Homo sapiens: one gene and its partners. Each later gene encodes a partner of the first gene's protein in a complex. Each region holds a gene or a part of one and is shown in the gene's direction. Other genes may lie near its edges. The genes, in order: NALCN, UNC79 and NALF1.

Region 1 (7,073 bases):
ATACAGTACAGTGTATACATAACTTATATATGCATTGGAATATAAAAAAAAATTGTGTGACTTGCCTCATTGTGATATGTACTTTATTGCATTGGTCTGAAACCAAATTGCACTGTCTTCCAGGAACGCCTGTACATGTAAATCCATGTTAGTGAGGCAACAAGCAGGAGATGCCTATTAGTTAGCCTGTTTACATTTTTAGGTGTGTATTCTAAACCTTAATTTTCCCTGCCCAAAGAGCATCTAAAAGTTCATCATAGCAATATTTGGTGACATGTGGGTCTTGAAATCACAGAACATAAACAAGTGTATACGGATTAAAACTAATCTTAGGCCGGGCGCGGTGGCTCACGCTTGTAATCCCAGCACTTTGGGAGGCCGAGGCGGGTGGATCATGAGGTCAGGAGATCGAGACCACGGTGAAACCCTGTCTCTACTAAAAATAAAAAAAAATTAGCCGGGCGTGGTGGCGGGCGCCTGTAGTCCCAGCTACTCGGAGAGGCTGAGGCAGGAGAATGGCGTGAACCCGGGAGGCAGAGCTTGCAGTGAGCCGAGACTGCGCCACTGCACTCCAGCCTGGGTGACAGAGCGAGACTCCATCTCAAAAAAAAAAAAACCTAATCTTAATGAGAGTCTCAAAAATATTACAGTCTTGTGTAGTTACTAAAGCATAATCTACTCATAAATCAAATGAAACATAATTATATTCGAGCAGAATTCTTCTCCAATTGATTCAGTGTCTATATTTCCATAGAGCACAGGACAGTCCCTCCATGGATTTTCAAATTTCTCTTTTAGCATGCCTATTGTTTTCCCAGTAACTCACCATGGTGTCCAGTGAAATACTAATTAAGGTGGAAATAAGCAGTAGGAACAAATGAGTTAGTGAAAAACAAATACCCTGTTTTCATCAAATTCTTGCTGTCTTGCATTTCATAGCTACTTCCTGTATTATTAGTCTGTTCTCATCCTGCTGATAAAGACATACTGGAGACTGGGTGATTTACAAAGAAAAAGAGATTTAACGGACTCACGGTTCCCCATGGCTGGGGAGGCCTCACAGTCATGGTGGAAGGCGAAAGGCACGTCTTACACGGCAGCAGACGAGAGAAAATGAAGACCAAGAGAAAGGGCCTTATAAAACCATCAGATCCCATGAGACTTATTCACTACCACAAGAACAGTATGGGGGAAACTGCCCCCATGATTCAATTATCTCCCACCAGGTCCCTCCTACAACACATGGGAATTGTGGGAGCTACAATTCAAGATGAGATTTGGATGGGGACACAGACAAATGATATCACATCCATTCCAAAGCACTTGCAGGACCATGAACACAATTTCATTTAAACCAAAGGCTACTACTATCTTGGTTGTGCATTGGCTTGGCTTCATCCTCTTTATTGTAAAACTTTCTGTATTGACTGCTTTCTCTGTGTTTGACATTATCCTTTCCCCAATCTCATACCGTCAAATACAGATTTAATTGTATAGGCTCCTACATGCAAACACCTTCCAGGGCCAGGAATTGAAGCAGGCTGGGGACATGGAGGCAAATGGGAAGTATATGCCCACCTATGGGAGGCACAGGATGCCCCTATTGGCCCCCTACCACTTGGGAATGCAGAACTGACCTGGCCAGATCTTCCTTCCTTTTTTTTTTTTCAAGACGGAGTCTCACTCTATCACCCAACCAAGCTGGAGTGCAGTGGCACAATCTCAGCTCACCACAACCTCTGCCTCCCCAGTTCAAGTGATTGTCATGCCTCAGACTCCTACAGGTATGGTGGCTTACGCCTGTAATCCCAGCACTTTGGGAGGCCAAGGTGGGTGGATCACCTGAGGTCAGGAGTTCGAGTCCAGCCTGGCCAACATGGCAAAACCCCGTCTCTACTAAAAATACAAAAATTAGCTGGGCATGGTGGAGGCTGCCTGTTATCCATATCTTCCTATTTTTCCTGATAAAATAAAATTCTTGTGGTTTTCAAATGTTGGTAATTGATCTTAATTTGTCAACAATATACATTGAGTCATACAAAACACACCTGAATTATATTCTCAGTTTATATTGAACCCACAGGCCAGCAATTGACTTTTACTGGATTCCAGCAATGAATGTAGTTACAGGGCCAATTCAACCTGGAAAAGATATTTGTTCATCCTTTCTACTTTTGCTTTGAGGATGCAGTGAGCTATAATCACATCAATGCACTCCAGGCTAGGCAACGGAGATAGGCCTTGTCTCTAAAAATAACAAAGAAAACAAAAGAAGAGAGATACTGAGCAGGTAGAAGGGGTACTATGATATTTTGGATGTACCTGTTTTTTAAAATGATTGTCTACTCCAATACACAGTGAATCCCTATGCATTATAGGATGAGTGTGCTGGATTCCATGACTTCCTTGAAGCCCATGAATTCTCTGAGACTGTCTCCATCATCATTGGGATTGTTTGGCTCATGAGCATGAATTATAGAGACTTAACAGAGGTAGTTCAACCAAGGACAGAGAAAGGTCTGAAATGCCTGTTGGGTGAGGAGTGGCACTGAGATTAGTAAAAAATCACTGCCTTGACCACTTCAAAACATTATAAATAAATGTTTAAATATTTCCTTAATATAATTTACTAACAGATAATTCGAACGAATGTCAAGGAATAACACACTATCATTCAGCTACCATATATATATAGCTATATATTTCAGTTTGTGAAATAAACTAGTATTTAGAACAAGCAATTGAAAGCCGCAAATAAAGATGATGAAACAAGTTGGTAAATACTTTTTCTAAGCAAACTGGTTGTAGATTTAGCATTGTTTAAATTACTGTCAATTTTTTCTTATGAGGAGTGATTTCATCATTTGTTTAAAACCTGGCTTTTGACACAGTTTTTCTGAAGTCTTTAGAAATTTGAAAAATTATCTCGCATGACTCTGTATTTCATGAAATACCAATATTTTAACATTTCCCTGTAAACAATAAAACGTACTAATATGGATTATGAATGTGAACAAATTGTGAATGGACTTTTTAAGAAAGTAGATTAATTAAATATCTGTAACCAGAAAATACATTTTTAAAATGTAGGTTTGTGTAGTTTTACTTCTATACCTTGCCACATAACATTTTGTGATAGACAAATGCTCTTTGTTTAGAATTTCTCTTGTAGAGAAAGCTTCATTCAGTTGTTTCTTTCCCTTTATTTATATGCCTGTGTGCATGATGTCTAAATCACTGGTCAGGAGTTCCCTGGGGATTTTCGTATCTGACTACATGGCAAGATTCCAGACCCAAAGTAAACCTTTCAGAGAGTGGGAATGAGTGGGAGGATGTCGCCCTGGGCATGGTGCTTAGGAGGCCAGATTTCCCTAAACCTGCTCTGCTGGGAGCCCTAGGAAGCCTCAGATGCAGTCTGCTGTCCAGGTATACTCACAGGGTATGGGGTGGGGGACTGTCAATTTCTGAATAGACTTTGTCTCATCCACACGACAACATATTTTAATTTTAAAGGCGAACGTCAACCTATTTAGAAAACTATAAGTGTGACTGATGCATTCATTATTTAATAACTCCGGGGTGAAACTTGAGGTGAACGGTTTCACCCTTTCATACTCAGGAATGGAACTAGTCCTCGGTACCGTGCACAGTCTGACCTCACGCTCGCACGCTGGGCTCCCGGCCTCCTGGCAGTGCACTTAAGTGTACCCCGCGTGTGCCCGGCGGACTCCCGTGCACACCGCCGCCGTGCTGTTGAGTACGAAAGACCCCCGAGAGGAGCTCGCAGATGAGAGCCTAGCTGTTGCTGTGAGACTGACTGCGGGTGGCAGCCGGCAAGAAGGAACTGCCAGTACCGACCCTGGCGCTCCCCACCAACTGCGGCGCAGCCTCCTCTGCGGTGCCCGCCCTTCGGCATCACTGCAGTCCCTGTAGCAAAGCTAACTTTAAAAATTTAAATAAAATAATAATTTTTTAAAGGCCCGAAAACTCCGGCTCCCACCCCTCCCCCAGCCTGCCCGGCGGCGGCGGCGCTCAGTGAGTGACACGGCGAGCGTGAGCCGCGGCCCCAGCCGGGCCGAGCGCGCTGCCTGAGCTGAGCCGCCGTAGGTGAGGGGCCCGCGTCCCCGCCCGCCCTGGGCGCCGCGCCTGGCACTGATCCTGCCGGTCGCCCACTGTCGCCGCCGCCGCCGCCCGCGGGCACCATGACAGCTCTGAGCGCTGGGGTTACAGGTTGGTCACCGCCGCCGGTGCCCGGGAGGCTGCGGCGCGGCCGGCTCCGTGCCCTGCGCCCGAGGCCCGCGATGCGCGCTCGTTAGTTCCTTGGCCGGTCCGGGCCAGGACGGCTCAGGGGCGCTGGGGCTGCGAGAGGGGCTGCTAGAGGGGCTGCGGGCGGGGGCCCCGCGCGGGGGAGGGGTGGGGAGGGGCGCCTCCACCCGAGAGCGGGGCGGTGGGGTCCTTGCCGGCCTGGCCGGGGCGCGGGAGCCGCGATGCGCCCTCCCTATTCCTGCGCGTGGGTGTCGGGGGCGCCTGCCGCGGGATGCCCCTGGGCTGGCTTGGGAAGCCCAGGGCCGGCGACACCTCGGGCCTGCCCCGCCTGGGCATCTAGCAGGTGTTGGGGGGCAGGTGGCTGAGGACGAGGCCACTGGGCATCACTACAGCGCTGCACCTGCCCCCTCGGCACCAGGGCCGCTGCCTGGGTAAACCTCTGGGCCAACGCGCGGGTGGGGAGGTGGGGGTGGGCAGCCTGGCTCCAGCAGGTCTCCGCGGGGGCTCCGCGGCCTTGCCCCACCCCCATGCTCCTGTGGATTGCTCCTTGCTAAATGTCCCTTATGATATTCATTGGCCTTGTTAAGCAGCCGTCATTAGGGTGGCTACACCGAACGCAAAACAGTGTCCTGCCAAGCAACACCATTTTGTCACTGAATCTTTAAGACACCAGCAAGGATGGCCTGGCTGGGATCCCTCTGGGGGCCCAGATCGCAGTCATTTTGCTGACTTAATGTTCCTCTTTCAGGATGGTGTGAGAATGCTGAACTCAGACCCTTAGTGCTTGAAATACCTTAGAATAAATCTTTCAGTTTCAGGTACAATTTTTCAGACACTGTATTATTAAGGATGTGTGAATACACGCTCACTTTCAGGCCTCAGAAGGTTTTACTCTTAATCTGGTGTTCGTGTGGTCATCAGCTAGGCCCGACTGCCCTGGTGGTGAAATGTGGGTTGAGGACCAGTGACCTTCGTGTTAGTAGTTGGTGGATAACACCTCTAATAGGGGATCAAAAATTAACAGGTGGCGATTTTGAAATATATATGTATGTATATATATATATATATGTGTGTGATTTGTATGTTCATAACTACAACTGTGATTTGATATGGCCTGGGAGAGGAGCGGTTTCACTATGGTAGTTACCCCTGAGGCAGATGCATCTCAGGACTGGCTTTTTAAATTCAAAGATAAGGTTTCCACAGTTCTAAATAAAAATCATGGCTTCCCAAACATCTGCAACGAGAAACATTTACTCCCTAACTGGTTGGCTGTCATTCTGCGTGCTTTTCTAGAGTCGATTTTTCGTTCTTCTGTAGTATACTTTGACCTAGCCACTGCTAAAACCAGACAGTGTGAAGACAAAATCCAGCTTTGGAGAAAAACTTAAAAAGTGAAAAGGTTCAGTTGGATCCTCTTCTGTGTTCATAGAAGACATAATCTGTTTGCAGAATAAATGTGCCGTCACTGATAAGGACTATGCTAAAATCTCTACAGAACTCTAGGAGAAAGCATGTCTTATAAAATAGTGGTTGTACACTTATAACTTTGGATAGGACTTGCAAGATATTCAAAGGAGAAATGTACTTAAAAAATGTACTTAAAAAAAGTCTACTCAAAATAGTGTCATTTAGTTGCAATTTAGTGAACTGAAGATTTGAGTAGCATTTTCTTCTTCTTGGGTATGGCATTTCTTTGAAATGGTTTCCAGGTGATTTTATCATTCCGGCATGCTTTGTGTGTGCATGTATGTGTATACACAAATGTACACATTTGTTTTATCATTTATCGATGATGTTCAGATAATTTCAGAATTTCCATAGCTGTATAAATTTATCCCAGGTCAGAGTCACATGTGGATTTCAAGTTTGTGAATGAAAATTCACATCTACACCTCTATATCCTAAGATAAGCTAAGCACTGGGCCAGAAGCTGGGTGGTGAGTGAGAAAAAGAGATAAACTGAGAGCCTAAGAATCCTTCAGGAAAGACAAATATGTAAGCAGGTGGATATACAGTGAGATGTCTTATTTTCTAGTTTTGCTGTGGAAACTATGATAGTGAGCTTAAACATATTAAGAATGGTCCCCAAGGCCACACACGGTGGCTCATGCCTATAATCCCAGCACTTTGGGAGGCCAAGGCAGGCCTATTGCTTGAACCCAAGAGTCCAGACCAGCCTGGGCAACATGGTGAAACCCCGTCTCTACAAAAAAAAAAAAAATTCACCAAGTGTAGTGGTGTACACCTGTAGCCCCAGTTACTTGGGAGGCTGAGGTGGAAGGATCGCGTGAGCCCAGAGATGTCAAGGCTGCAGCAGGCTATGATGGCACCACTGTACTCTAGAATGGGCGACTGGGCACAGAGTGAGACTCTGTTTAAAAATAAAAAAAGAATGCCCCTGTCCCAAAATGTTATCAACATTTTAGAGCTTCACTCATGTTATACAATTCTCGCCTGTCTCAAGGACCAGCACAGATTTTCATACCTTCAAACTCTATGCAAATGCTTAAATTTTTTTAATTGATTTTTTGAATTTTAAAGTAACCAAAGTTGATAGAGATGATAGAATGATAGAGAAAAAAGAGTAAACAGCTAGTTTTAATAACCGAAGACAGATGACCACAATATCTGTGTGTTTTTTGTAGTCTTTTTAAGGGCTTGACTTCAGGTAGTTGTCATCGTGGCATTGGACAACTTTTATACTGTTTTTACCACTGAATATTTATTATAAATATTTAAAATATTTCTATATAATTTTCTTACTTAAAAATTGTAAATGGCTGTATAACACCATACCCAGTAAA
Region 2 (7,109 bases), on another chromosome or scaffold:
TCTTTCCTTCTGCCCAAAGGATTTTCTGTAAAGTCTCCTGTGCAGGTCAGCTGGTGATTAATTGTTTTAGGTTTTGTATGTTTTAGAAGCTTTATTTTGCTTTCAATTTTGAAAGACAGTTTCACTGGGTATTGAATTCTAGATGGATGGTTTCGGAGGTTTTTTTTTTTTTTCAATACTTTAAAGATATTGCTCCTCCATTGTCTTTTTGCTTATATTGTTTCCAACAAGAAATCTGTCATTCTTATCTTTTTTGTCTGTATGTGATATGTCTTTTTTCCTCTGTTGTCTTTGCCACTATGGTTAAGCAATTTGATGATGCTATGCCTTGGTAGAGTTTTCTTCATATTTCTGGTGCTTGGGTTTGGTGAGCTTCTTGAATCTCTGGATTTATAGTTTTCATTAGATTTGGAAAAATATCAGCCATTGTTTCTTCAAATATTTTATTCAGTGCCTCTACTCAACATGCCCAATCTTTCTTCTACCTTCTTGACCATATTGAATATAGGTATCATAACTGTTTTAATGTCCTTGTCTGTTAGTTCTGTTATCTGTGTCATTTTTGTTTTATTTTCTGTTAATGGATTTTTCTCCTCATTCGTGTGTTTCTTTTGTTGTTGTTGTTTCTTAGCATGCCTGGTAATTTTTTATTGTATTCTTGACATTGTTAATTTGACTTTCTTGGGTGATGGATATTTTTATATTCATATAAAATATTCTTAAGCTGTATTCTGTGACATAGTTACATAACTTACAAATATCTTTATCCTTCTGAGGCTAACATTTAAGCTTTGTTAGGTATTGATCAGAGCAGCAATTTTTGTAGGGCACGTAGTTCTTCACTGCTGCTGCTGTATACCACTATCCTTATCAGTACTCTCATGATGTTCTATGAGTTATAAGATTTTTCCACTCTGACTAATAGGAACACAAAATATTCTTGGCCCTATATAATCACCAGGGGATTTTTTTCCTTCTAAGATTTTCGGGTCGTTTTTTCTCCAGTGTTGGGTAGTTTTTATAACTTGCATGTACTGGTCAGCACTCAGCTGAAGACTCAGGGGGATCCCTTTTCAGATCTTTGGAGTTGTCTCTCTCTCTGTAGATCTCTCCTGTCCAGTACTCTACCTTGAAAACTGTAGTCACTTTGACCTCCCAGGGCTCCTGGCTACCTCTCCTCACTCAGGAAGACTGCCAGGCTCCACCTGCATTCCTGCTGCCAGTGCTACTGCCTGAAAACTCTCTCTAGGCAGTGAGCTGGAATACCTGCAGGACTCACCTGGTTTGTTTCCTTTCCCTCAGTGATCTCTGTCCTGCATTTCTTGATGCTCAATACCTGAAAAACATTGTTTTTTATAGTTTGTCTGGATTTTTAGTTGTCCCAGGCAGGAGGGTAAATCTGGTCTTTGTTACTCCATCTTGGCTGAAAGAGAAAGTTTCATCACCAATTTTAATTTTGAGGGCTGGAATAAGCAGGATTGAAATGAGTACAGTCCAACCAGGCAGGAAGTCTTCCATTTGTTCTGTAGCATGAACCAAGATAAGAGGAAGGGTATCACTTTTATTCTTGTGAAAACCTATTTTTTAAATGTCCTTCAGTTTTCAGGATATTGTTTCTGAAGAGGGGGGAGAAAAAAAAGCCCAACCAACTTTACTCCATCATAACATTGCAGAGCCCAAAATAAATCACATCTAATTCTTACTGACAGATTTGTAGGAACCACTAGCAAAAGAGAATGAAAATGAAAGTTATTCAATAAGTCAAATTAACATTTCTGAAATAGGGTGATGGCTGGGTTATATAATGTCATCAATAATGATGAGCTTTAACTGGATACATTTAGTCACGTGATTTGCAAATCACAAACCTGAAGGTCCCTTGCAGGTATATTTTAGAATCACATGGTCATAGATTACATCAATGGGGAAATAATAAAAACACTTTTAGACCAACATCACTATTCCCCTTGCTTGCTTCACATGGACGCTTAGCCACAGTGGCAGCACTGGGAAAGGTATCCACCCAGGGACAGGGTACTCAGTACTCCCTGACCCTACTCTTCTCAAGTCCCTCACAATTCTTAACAGGAGGTTAGTTTGGGTATTTCCCAAATATCAAGAGGCGTATGGGCCCACTTCTGTATTAAATAGTCAAAGGTCAACAAAGTCTGTAGCATCAGCACCCTCCAGGGCTTGCTTTTTGCTGTGCAGAAATTATAGGGGGAGACAGTTAGACTAGATAAATTTTTTTTTTCCATTCAGAATGTCTAGAGGAGCCAGTCCTAGTAAGGGTCAGAGGGCACAGCCTTATCTGGTACCAATCTTTGTAATCCCACCGTTTTGTTATGAGGGTTGGGGGACAGGGGGAGGCATGGAGAGGGTGGCATCTTCTGATATTTTCAGCTTTAGTCTCATTACATTTTCTGATACACACCATACTCCATTTATAAACACAGTATTCATGTTAGAGACCAAGTGTTAGCTAGCTGCAACAGAAACACTACGTTTAGGAATGTTTAGGAGTAAATGTCAATAGAAGTCAAATTAGCGAATTATATACATCAACAGAATGTTAAAAGTCAAACAACAGCCAGATTTAGCCTTGGGAACAAAAACAGGGAGAGAAATGCAGCTTATCACTTCACCAAGTTCATTTTAAAGAAAATGTGATGAATTCAATGAAACCAGCAGCTTATGGCTATGACTAACTTTGAACTCTGAGGTCATTCACATACTGTCCCCCATCCCAAAAAGCTCTCCTTCGTCTTTGGTTTTGTTCATTACATCAGTGTCCCCCAGTTTGCCCAGGTTAGAAACCTCTACCTCTTCTTTGACCTTTTCCTCACTTGAAAGAGCAGACTCATCCTCAGATCCTCAAGATTTGTCTCTGCAGGTGGAATCCTTCCCCATCCCCAGAAACTGTCCCTGGTCTTCTCTGGACCATTGAGGCAACCTCCACAGTGGCTCTTGCCTCCATTCCCTGCCTCCTTCTTCACCCTAATCTGCAGGCTGCTGCCACGGTGATCTGTCTGGAGCACTGTTTTGCTCATGGTGAATAGAGCATCCCCTCTTCGGAAGTTGTATTGAATTTGGAATAAAATTCAGATCCCCTAATTTGGCATTTAGGGCCATCTGGTGGGCTAAGGGTGTGAAGGCCTGGCCTGTGCTTTTCTAAACTTGTTTTTCATGGCCGTTTTCTAAGAGCCTCACATGTCAGCATCACGTGACTGTCTCCCCTCCCCGACTCTCTGCACACTCCCACCAATGAGCTTCGCCATGCCTTCTCTCTGCTTCCTGGAATGCCCTTGTTCTGGCTTCCCAGGACTACCAAGGTATTACAGTCTGGGTGGTTCAACCAACAGAAATGTATTCCCTGGAAGTTCTGGAGACCAGAAGGCTGAGATCAAGGTGTCGGCAGGGTTGGTTTCTTTTAAGGGATTGGAGAGAGAATTTGTTCCAGACCTGTCTCCTAGCTTCTGGTGGTTTGCTGGGTCTTTGGGGTTCCTTGGCTTGTAGGTCCCTGTCTTCATCTTCACATAGCATGCTTTCTGTGTGTTTGTGTGTAGGTGTCTAAACTCCCCTTTTTATAAGGACACCCGTTATATTGGATTAGGGGCTCACCCTACTCAAGTATGACCCCATCTTAACTAATTTACATATTCAACAATCCCATTTCCAAATAAGGTCACATTGTGATGCAGTGCAGATTAGGACCTCAATATAGATTTTAATGGGGCACAATTCAATGCATGACAACACTACTCCTTTATTTGAGTGGAGGGTTGGAAGGAATATGGAGCGAAATGATATGATGCATATTGGTGTATTAAAGATCTGAGAAGTACTGAAATATAGAAACTAACATTTCCAAACCTATTGGATCGGAGTCCCCCTCCACCATTTAAAAGCTCTCCAAATTAGAGTGCCATGGGACACAGTTTGAGGAATGCCATATTCTGTCTCCGACTTCTGGATGCACAAGGCCATGAATATTTACTTAGATTTTAAAGGACTGAAACACGGAGGAGGGCCCAAAGCAGAGAGAAGGAGCAGCTTCTGGAGGTCCTCAGGCCAGGGCACCTATGACCTCCTCCCAGGAAGGACCACATCAGAGGGGTTGAGGTCCTGTCAGAGAGGCAGCAGAGGGCCAGGGTTCTCCAGCAGGGACTTGCTGCTTGGCTGTGTGTGCTCCCACACTTCGCAGACACCCGGCTCAGTCTCGCTGTATTACACCTTCCAGATCGCAGCCAGGCATCTTGGAGTGGTCTTTCTCGCTCACTTAAGTGTTCCATCCACTGACCAGAGATATTTTCTTAATGACTACAGGCAAATAGAGTCGCCATTCCACTCAGACACTCAGTTCTAAAGATCCTGTGGAGGAAATTCTATTTCAAGAAAGTGAGGATTTAATTAAATAAATACACATTTAATTTCCTGTGCTTGGTAGCTTTCGAGAGACAATCAGTCATTTACTCTAAAGTGTGTATCTCAGGCACTCATGGGGCGCTTATTAACCTCCAAATGCCACTGGCTCAGCGGGGTTTGGCCTCAGAAAGACATTTTGCTGATAACGGGTAGCCCTGCAGCAGGGCCCACATCCGTGCGCGACGTGAAAGGGATTCAATGTGGCCTGTTTTCCCTTGCAATGAGCGAAGCTTTGTGGGAGAATAGAGGACACTAATAATGAAGCTTTTGTCTTTCTCTATACAGCTGATACCTATGTGGTTGCCAATGATTCAGTCAAATATCAAGGTAAGTCACTCCCTGGGCTGATTGGAAGCTCGGTTTCCTGCAGAGAACGTATAACGTTCCTAGGGATTGTTGATGCTCCATTTACTATGGAGAAGGATGAATTCAACCTGCTCCTGGCCTTAGAGGGCTGATAATGCAGGAGACCTGTGGGCCAGGTAAGGGCTCTGCAGGCAGGGGGTGGCAGCAGGAACCATTGTCCTACTGCTTGAGGTTGGTGAGGATGCAGTGGAGGGCGGTATCCCAGGGTCTGAGCAAGCCTCAATCCACTGATGAGAGTACAGGCCGAGGCCGGGTGCAATGGCTTCTGTCTGTAATCCCAGCACTTTGAGAGGCCATTGTGGGAGGTTTGCTTGAGGCCAGAAGTTGGAGATCAGCCTGGGCAACATAGCGAGACCCCATCTCTGCAAAAGAATAAAAATTTAACTGGCTGTGGTGGCATGCACCTGTGGTTCTAGCTACTTAGGAGGCTGAGGTGGGAGGATCACTTGGAAGCCCAGGAGTTCGAGGCTACAGTGAGCTATGATCCTGCCACTGCGCTCCAGCTTAGGCAACAGAGTGAGACCCTGTCTCTATTTTAAAAAAAGAAATCAAAGAAATATAAATTGGAAATGAAAAAATAAACTGTCACTATTTGCAGTAACAAGATTGTGTATATATAGACAGAGCAAGACCCAGTCTCTCAAAAAAAAAAAAAAAAAAAAAAAAAGAGGAGTAGCATACCGACCCCTTGGAGGATACCTAGGCACATTCAGTGATGTGTCCTGGTTGCTAAAATGGATTTTCTATCATGAGAAGAATTCTGTTATGACAGGACAACCTCAAATAAATGATAGGATTGAGCTACAAGGAACCTACTGCCTCATTTTATATATGAAGAAATTTAGGACCAAAAGGAAGAGTGACTTGGTCAGGGCCCCACAGCCTAAAAGAGGAGATCCCGCCTGAATATGTTTCCCAGCCCCAGGCTTTGCCTTGACTGGCGCTTTGTCATTGTAGGGGCAAACATACTCTATGACCAGCAAACAGAGTTACTGGGCGTGACTTAAGATGGCAAAGCCAGCTGCCTGCTCCATCCAAACCGGGTCCTGTCTGTAGCACTAAGAGTGTCAGGGGGATGGGAGGAAAAGCTGGAAAGTTTTTTGCTGGGTTTCTTCTCCGAGTTGGGGAGGGATGCTAGTGGAAGGAAAGCGGTATGAACTCAGGGTACCCAGACACCAAAAGAGAAAAATGCGGCTGTCAACAATGACCACAGCCTTTGAGTCCTGATTACGGCCTTGGTGCTATTTGTGGCGGCCGTCGGGGGCATGGGCACTGCTGAAAACTGCCTCTCGGTACTAGTTTTTTCTGTGAAAAGAGAGTTTCTTGCACTCTCAGCTTGAAGCATTTTAAATTGCCTCTCTTACCCTTTCCCGGCTTTATGGCAATCTGTGGCGATTGCCCAGATGGCCAGGAGCAGGCCGACAGAACTCCCTAAGAAGCTTGGAGAAAGAAGAGAAGCTATCATCCTAGCTTCTTCATGTGCCAAGTTCTGTTCTGAGCACTTTTTTAACCCATTTGTCCTACACAAACCCCCTGAGTAAGTGTCACTATCCCCCCTTTACCCATGAGAAAACCCAAACACGGACCAATAAACCTTGTTCCCAAAGTCGCCTATAGAAGAGCCAGGCTTTGAACACAGGGATCCTGACAGCAGAACCCGGGCACTTCACCACCACACCAGGTCCCTGTCGTAAACAGTTCACTGGGGCCAAGTTTATGTGTTAGCCCAGCACTGGTGTGGCAGCTTTATGTTTTCATTGCAGTGAGTCTGTCAAGGTGAGCATGTCATTATTATGATGGGTTTGGGCCAGGACGACTCTAGAAAACACGGTGCGATCCCCCGCCCTGGGCACTGCCAGAGTAGAGAGTTTGCCTTCTTCAGGCCAGACAACCCTTGAGCCAAGCCTAAATTCTGCCTGCAAGAAGCCGCCCGGGTCGACACTCCCTGGGTTGCCCGTGAAAAGAAATAAACTAAAACCTCTTGCCCTTTTTCGACAGCACTTATCTGCGGGACTCCAGCTTCGCCTCCAGGCTATTCAGAACCACGTGAACCACCACAGCCTAAGGACGCTGCCGGGCTCGGGCCAGAGCAGTGCTGGCCTGGCAGCCCTCCGAAAGTGGTTGCAGTGCACTCAGTTCAAAATGGCCCAGGTGGAGATCCAGTCCTCGGAAGCAGCCTCTCAATTTTATCCTCTATGAGTGGACTCCTCGGCGCTCAGTGTCAACACTCTGGTTTAGCAATAATGGGTTTAAAAACAAACAATTTGATCCAAGCAGGTTGGGGAACATATTGGTACTGTACATTCTCTTTCTAGTTT
Region 3 (7,109 bases), 5.8 Mb from region 1:
TTTCTCCTCCGTCCTTCGGATTTCGATTCAGCTCACATGGTTTCCCCCACTTGTTTTCTGATGTATCTTACCCCTAGAGCTAAAATTTTAGAAAATATTTAATACTCAAATGAGGAATATTCATTGCACACTCAAAGCCCAGGAGGTAGCTCATAACGGATGCCACCGTGGAGCCTGGCCGGAGAGGTCGTCATAGCTCAGTGTATAAGGTCTGGGATTCTGCCGGCGGCTTTGCAAATGATGCTCGATCACTTTTCTTCATAACTAACTACTACCTGATACTTAAAAAAAAATGCTGTGATCTCTTACTAGTTTCTTTTTCTTTTCTTTTTTTTTTTTTTTTTTTTGAGTTAAAAAAAAATCTGCAAAGGAAATATAGCGGAAATAGAATTTAAGGAGCCAGAATAAAAATGGATATGTTCCCATCGGGCAATGCTGAGGAAAGTGGTTGCAAAGAGGATGGCTAGATCTGAAGAGACTCCAATACTGGACGCCCCACCGTCTGCGAGAGAGGAGACGTTGTTTCTTAAGACTTTATGGCTGCAGGATGCGATTCCCTATTCAGAACCCATTTTAACTGGAATAACGGTGGAAAGGCAACGTGTGAGGGAGCGGTGGGAATGGGGACCCCAATTTGGCCAATGAAAACATGAGCCACTTTCTGGCATTACATAGGGCACTCCTTAAAGAAAAACAGGCAACTCTAGACTTTAGAATCCCAGAAATGTGCGGAAAGCAAGCTGTCCTCATAATGGAATGTTATTTTTTGAACTGCAGGTATAAGCCTATCCTGCTTCCTCTAGTACCTGAGAAAGGTTATTAAGCCCAGGAATCAGAGGATACATGGCTCATTCCTATACTACAGCTTAGTTTACATAATAAATGTCATGTCATATTACGTATCATGTCATATTACACAAACGTCAATGTCTATGGCATTTTGACAAACGTTTTCAACTTCCCCATGGTTTGGTTAAGAAATCATTTCACTTTTTCTTCTGAAGCTGGTGCTTCCAGCCTCTTGCTGCCGGCACCACCTCCACCTTCACCTGTCCCCCTGAGGCAGCCTCTTGCTGTCCTCCTGGGGCACACAGCCACAGCCCACCTCCGTTTCCCAGTTGGCATAAGAATTCTTAGAGGTTTCTTCGGCTATTGTAACGTTTTCTTCTAGTGCAGTTTTTCAGTGTACACTGTTACGAGAAGACTCATTCAAAAGACCTATAAGAATTCTAATTATTTGTAGGTTTTACTAACAAGTTACATGGTGATTGTGAGCCATTGATGACTGGCAAAGAAAAATTACTTTTGGCCATTTAAAAGTGTATCTCACTTTGATATTTATCTCATTTTACCTCTACCAAGTCACCTTGATCACAGAATAAAGCGTCATTTTGATCAACCTAATGTTATGAATAAAAAAATACAATCCTCCTTCTACCAAATAGATATTGACCCGGGGCATGGAAGGCCATGCTGATTTTAGGTTCATCTGCAAACTCCCTTGTGATTTCATAAGTGCTTTAAAAGTAGTTTTCAGATTAAATATAGGATAACTATTAGGAACACAGTCTTTGGAGCCCTACAGAACATGGGTTTGAAGTCTGGATTTTCCATTTCCATTACCTAATAGTACTATTACTTAATATTATTCCTGTTCAAAATGTGAGTAATAGTTATGGTCAAAAGTGCATGCTGAGAATCACATGGAAAAAAAAGTTTACAGCTTACTTAGAAAAGAGTATAAAGTTGATAAATACCAGCTATTATTCTTGTTATTATTAGGTATTTATAATCTCTTAGGCTACCTTTAACTGCTGCGCCTCCATTTTTCTAGGTAAAATATAACCGGCAAAATGTTACTTGGATAATATTAACCCTAGAAATAGATAAGTAAAAGCCATTAGTGCCAAGGACCTGGAGAATAACTGAATTTCAGTAACCTGTACTGCAAATTGGTACATCTGCCATTGTTGTATTTGAATTTAAGATCAGCTTATTCCTTCGTGTCAGAAAAAGGCAATTTTTTCAATGTTTGTTTTCCCAAATAGCCACCAAAACAAAGAGATGAATGAAGTCCCAGTCCTTTCACATTTGATGAAATTACATAAATACGTAGCAAACATTGATGTGGCTTGCACATCATCCAGAAGGTTGAAGCTGTGGCTCTGATGAGGCTTCCCTCCTACTCCCAACCACACCACAGCATATGATGTCTGCTCTATGTCGGGTGTTTCTGGGCTTTCAGACAGTGAGATTTTTAATGCATTTGGTGTGAGTCATGAATGTAAATGTCCATATCTGCCTGTTCTCTGCCTCTCAAAGTCCAAGATCTAAACAGCAGTTTCCCAACCCCTGCTGGGCCATCTTTATAAAGTGCTTCGCGCCATCTAGCGTCCTATGGAGGCATAGACGTGGGACTCCGTGTGGAGGGAACTGGCTCATCAGCCACGTTGCAAGTAACTACAGCACAGAAGAGCAATAGAGTCAATTATTTATTTTACTTTAGATATCGCTGAATTTTGAAAAATTAACTTCCTGCTTAAATCCACTGATTTTCAAATAAGCCACATAAAATTAAAGGTCAAAATACCTTTTACATTCTATTAGGGATGCAATCAAATACTGTTTTGCTTTTATTGCGGAGACTTTCGTTGCTGTGTTTTTATCACTTGCAGCTGTCGTTGTGTAAATACGCTTTCTCACAATGAGGGCTCTCTTAGGATCCACTTGAAACCACAGCACGCTTGCACGCTTCTCACAGTGCCTCTATCACTGTAACTGTTGTCACGCCTCTATATTTTTCATTCTTCTCTTTTTTTCAGATTGTCTACAAAGCCTGGCTCTGTTCCCAGTATTTTGAAGTCACACAGTTTAACTGCAGAAAGACAATTCCTTGCAAGCAATACTGTTTGGAGGTTCAGACGAGGTGTCCATTTATATTGCCCGACAATGATGAAGTCATCTACGGAGGCCTCTCCAGTTTCATCTGTACAGGTACAGTGCCGGGTGGGAGTCTGTACACCAGTCTCCGGTGGTTTTGCTTTCTTGTGTGATGTTTGTTTGCTTTGCTGTTTCCTTTCACTGATATAACCTTGAAGATGCGGCTGGTAGTTTTCCGCACTTTCACTAATAGAAGCACCGAAAGCTCCCCTCAACAGGTCTGGAAATGATTCAGCTTCTGTACCACATGGTCTATCTGTAACTGAGACCACAGTTATTCACTGTGTGAAAGAAGAAATCTGATGGCAAAATATTAGCAATCATTAGATATACTTACATGTGACCTAGTATAGGTTAGATTCAGCCTGCATTGCCTTTGAATTCCATAAGAACAGGAGATGTGCTAAGGCCAGTGAAATAATGCTTTTCAAATTAGTCAGAAGTTTATGTTCTCTTGCCTATTTTCTTTTATTTTATTTTCTGAGAATTTTTATGTTACTTTATCTGTAAAAAGTATTAAGAGCATTAAAAATATCTGCCTAAATTGTACGTGTGTGTGTGTGTGTGTCTATTAGAGCCACACAACAAGTCTATCCATTAAACGATGTTTACTTCTTTCAGCAAATGAGTCAGACTGGGCAAAACACCAATATCAGCACTCCTTTTCTGGATATTTATAAGCATTACATAATTTAGACAGAATAAGATATAAAGAGCAAGAGCCTTTTTTTAAAAAATAAAAAGATAATTAAATGGTGAGAACAAGATACTTTGCCAGGGTGGTGTGATAATCCGAGTGGTGGCTCTGCATTCTCTTCTATAACAATAATGCTATAAGGCGTCCCTGGAATTACGTGGCTCAAGCTGTAGCACGTTTTGTTTTCAAGTGTAAGGATAAAACACCATCATATGTGTAGAGACACATGAAAATGCTCTTCTGACATTAGACTTGCCAAACTCCTCTAAAACAGAGTAGCATATTAAGATGCTCAACATGAGAATTTATCAAATTATTTCAGCATCGCTTATTTACATACGTATTCATTAGCCACAGTGTTCTAAGTGATAAGCTATCAAGAGATAGTCTGCCAAAGCTCGCCCTAAGAACTGGATGAGTATTTCTTTCTTTTTTTTTTTTTGAGATGGAGTCTCGCTCTGTGTCACCCAGGCTGGTGTGATCTCGGCTCACTTTAAGCTCCGCCTCCGGGGTTCAAGTGATTCTCATGCCTCAGCCTCCCGAGTAGCTGAGATTACAGGCGTGCACCACCACACCTGGCTAATTTTTGTATTTTTAGTAGAGACGGTGTTTCACCGTGTTGGCCAGGCTGGTCTCCAACTCCTGACCTCAAGTGATCCACCCTCCTTGGCCTCCCAAAAGTGTTGGAATTACAGGCGTGAGCCACTGTGCCCAGCCTGGATTAGTATTTCTTATGCTGCCCAAGCTTGTGGAAAGAACACGTGACTGAAGGTCAGGAGCATTGGCCTTCATCCTGTTTCTATTGTACATTCTCTCAGAGGCACCACCCCTTCACTAGTAAATTAGAAAGTGCAATGGCCAAACCCTCCCCCATGTGGATATGCTGCAAGGATTACAGATAAGAGAGAAGGGCAAGTTATGTCATTGACCAGCCATAGCCGTTGCACACGAGAAAGTGAAATGCAGAATGATTTCACAGGCCTGTGTGTTATTCTACTGACTTGATGCTCAAGTCATTTTTTATGTAGCTCCTCTCTGCTGGAGGGGGAGGAGGGGGAGGAAGGAGGGAAGAGGGAAAGAAGGAATAAGGGAAGGAGGGAAGGAGGATATCAATATCTTCTTGCTTTGAGTTTGAGACAAAATTCACCAGACACAGGCTATTAATTCATATTGAATTTTGCATACAACATTCCACAAATAACCATGAAGATAAGGCCTTCATTTTTTTTTTCTTGTGGGACAATGAGGTGTCTGTGACATGAGGACTTCAGAGAAGCTATTCGATTTTTATGTACAGGTTGTGTTTATGCATTTACACTCACATTGGCTTTTGTCCTAGAGAAGAACAATAGTTTTTGAACCAAGTTCTCAAAGTAGACAAAAAACCCAAATGAAGGGCGAGGTGTTTGCGTTTATCTTCTTTTTCCTACATGTATCTGTATTTGTGAATCTGAAATATATGTTTGAATGTTCACCCACTTCCTCCATACACATTCAGAATGCCAGGGTAGAATTAAATCTCTCACTTCACAACATGGGCAGAGAATCCAGTCTGCAGTTTTAATTGTTTTCGAGTTTGGTAAAAACAGCTTCTTCATAGACATAGCTACGTCATTAAGGAAAAGTGGCAGGAAAAGAGAGATTTATCAGATCCAGAGAAAAGTGCCATCTCCGTGAGAGGCCCCCTAGGATAATCTCATCACTGAACATTTGGAAACCTAAGAACAGTAGTTCTTATGTCACTTTCAGTTGGGTTAATGTTCATTTTATGTTTAAATTGCTCGAAAATATATGGAATAAATTCTGAGGTTATTTCACCCTGAAGTTCTGTAAAACAATCTGACAGAAAAAGATAATAATTTTCATATTGATCTTCTTTTCTAAGGTGTGACCTGTGCCTCTTTGAAGAATTCTCATTCATGTTGATAACTAGCAGCCATCATTTCCCATCATCGGTTACAGGTGTCCCTTAAGAGTGCACTGCTGAGGCCAGATGCAGTGGCTCATGCCTGTAATCCACACAATTTTGGTAGGCTGAGATAGGAGAATTGCTTGAAGCCAGGGGTTTGAGGACAGTCTGGACAACGTAGCAAGACCCTGCCTCTACAAAAAATTAAAAATAAAAGAACTAGCCAGACACAGTTATGTGCACCTGTAGTCGCAGCTATTTGGAAGGCAGAGACAGGATTGCTTGAGCTCAGGTGCTGGAGATTGCAGTGAGCTGTGATCCTGCCACTGCACTCCAGCCTGGGCAGCATAGCGAGACCCTGTCTCAAATGAAAAAGAAAATGAAAGAGTGCACTGCTGGACCTGAGCAAGGAGATTTCTACTCCTGTCCATCACAGCTGCCTGCCCGTTGCTTATAAGAGTCCCAGACATGGGCCCCAGAATGGGTTTCATCTTGGATGATGTTAGAATAGAGGACAGCTCCCAGAGGACCACTGGCTAAACTGTGGAGTGGCTTGTCATGCGTCTAAGGAAACTAGTAAGACATATGTGCATATAATTTGTTCCCAGATTTTAAGTTGCACATTTTTGGATGTCCGTCTCCTACAAATGTACACGGATTTTTAAATAGTTTACATTATAAATAAGTTTGCAAGTAAATGTGAGCCATTTACATTCTGTTTTTTTTCTCTGAAAACAGAATAATAAAAAGACCAGTGTAGTTATAGCATCATTTAATCTCATACAAAATATTTTAATAAATATATCAAAGTTTAAGGGAAAAAAGAAATGGGAAGGGAGATGGTATGCCCAGAATAAAATAAAAAAATGAGAGTAGGTTATGAAACCAAGTAAAATGCAGTAACTTCATCAAAAAGAATTCACCAAGTAAGGTGACCTTCCTCTTGCCTCCAGCAATTTTTCTTTTTGAAAAAAATCATCAAGCATTTGATTTCCACTCTAGATGTTAAAATGCAATCATTTCTCACTAAGAATTAAAGGAATAGGTGGAGTTTCCTTCAAATTCAACAGATTTAATTATAATGGTTTTCCTACTATTTGAACTGCATCCAATTCACAGCTTCCAGAAGGACGGAGAATTCCCTCTAGGATATCGAGGATTCTTCACTTACTTTTCTTATTGACCTCAAAAAAAAGTATTCTGTAAGCACGTAACTGCACATGGCCTGATGACAGATACTGTCCATGTGAGCATCAGTTTTCTTCAAGGTGCTTCTCCTTAGTGACAAACCAGTGGCATGGTGATTCCTTTTCTTAGCGTTCTCTGTACCCAGAATCTTAGAGATCTCAAGTTCTTCCTGTCATTGTCCTATTGGCTATATACTGATACCTAGGATTCCTATTATTCACAAAAAAGGGAATATCACCCCTTGGAATCAATGAACAATTTCTGTAAATGATCAGGAGTTATTTACCATTTTGGTCACACTTACTAAATTCAGTATCTCGTGCATCATTTCTTTATGGTGCTCACATCACCATGTACCAAATTTGAAAGTTTTAA

The links.
Region 2: the proteins of NALCN (region 1) and UNC79 are in contact, whole or in part, in a cryo-EM structure (PDB 7SX3), measured with the Homo sapiens proteins. Residues at the interface, in NP_001337678.1 of Homo sapiens: Gln349, Met350, Phe351, His352, Glu353, Gly358, Trp359, Gln360, Leu361, Phe712, Ser713, Ile714, Arg717; in NP_001333147.1 of Homo sapiens: Cys861, Gln862, Ile865, Glu968, Pro969, Asp970, Phe1020, Gln1022, Pro2088, Asp2089, Ala2092, Pro2093, Leu2095, Leu2096, Met2099, Leu2139, Pro2141, Asn2142, Gly2143, Ile2144, Gln2147, Leu2148, Ser2151.
Region 3: the proteins of NALCN (region 1) and NALF1 are in contact, whole or in part, in a cryo-EM structure (PDB 7CM3), measured with the Homo sapiens proteins. Residues at the interface, in NP_001337678.1 of Homo sapiens: Cys207, Val209, Asn220, Leu222, Ala223, Ile224, Pro225, Thr227, Tyr237, Pro240, Phe243, Tyr406, Glu409, Phe909, Ala1044, Lys1045, Asn1047, Pro1049, Arg1054, Ile1060, Arg1062, Ile1063, Asn1064, Val1065, Ser1066, Lys1069, Lys1080, Lys1081, Gly1083, Phe1084; in NP_001073865.1 of Homo sapiens: Lys278, Glu281, Phe282, Val285, His287, Lys288, Tyr289, Leu290, Gln291, Glu294, Tyr295, Ser296, Val297, Lys298, Ser299, Tyr308 (codon at 2,829), Trp311 (codon at 2,838), Leu312 (codon at 2,841), Gln315 (codon at 2,850), Leu335 (codon at 2,910), Gln338 (codon at 2,919), Thr339 (codon at 2,922), Cys341 (codon at 2,928), Phe343 (codon at 2,934), Ile344 (codon at 2,937), Leu345 (codon at 2,940), Pro346 (codon at 2,943), Asp347 (codon at 2,946), Asn348 (codon at 2,949), Asp349 (codon at 2,952).

The regions. Positions count from the first base shown.
Region 1 is NC_000013.11:101,413,470-101,420,542, reverse strand, and holds the start of NALCN (sodium leak channel NALCN), read left to right. Parts: upstream 1-4,034; 5' UTR 4,035-4,230; intron 4,231-7,073. UniProt on the Homo sapiens protein: Voltage-gated ion channel responsible for the resting Na(+) permeability that controls neuronal excitability. NALCN channel functions as a multi-protein complex, which consists at least of NALCN, NALF1, UNC79 and UNC80.
Region 2 is NC_000014.9:93,699,915-93,707,023, forward strand, and holds part of UNC79 (protein unc-79 homolog), read left to right. Parts: intron 1-4,710; coding exon 4,711-4,752; intron 4,753-6,789; coding exon 6,790-6,990; 3' UTR 6,991-7,109. UniProt on the Homo sapiens protein: Auxiliary subunit of the NALCN sodium channel complex, a voltage-gated ion channel responsible for the resting Na(+) permeability that controls neuronal excitability.
Region 3 is NC_000013.11:107,206,469-107,213,577, reverse strand, and holds part of NALF1 (NALCN channel auxiliary factor 1), read left to right. Parts: intron 1-2,822; coding exon 2,823-2,994; intron 2,995-7,109. UniProt on the Homo sapiens protein: Auxillary component of the NALCN sodium channel complex, a channel that regulates the resting membrane potential and controls neuronal excitability.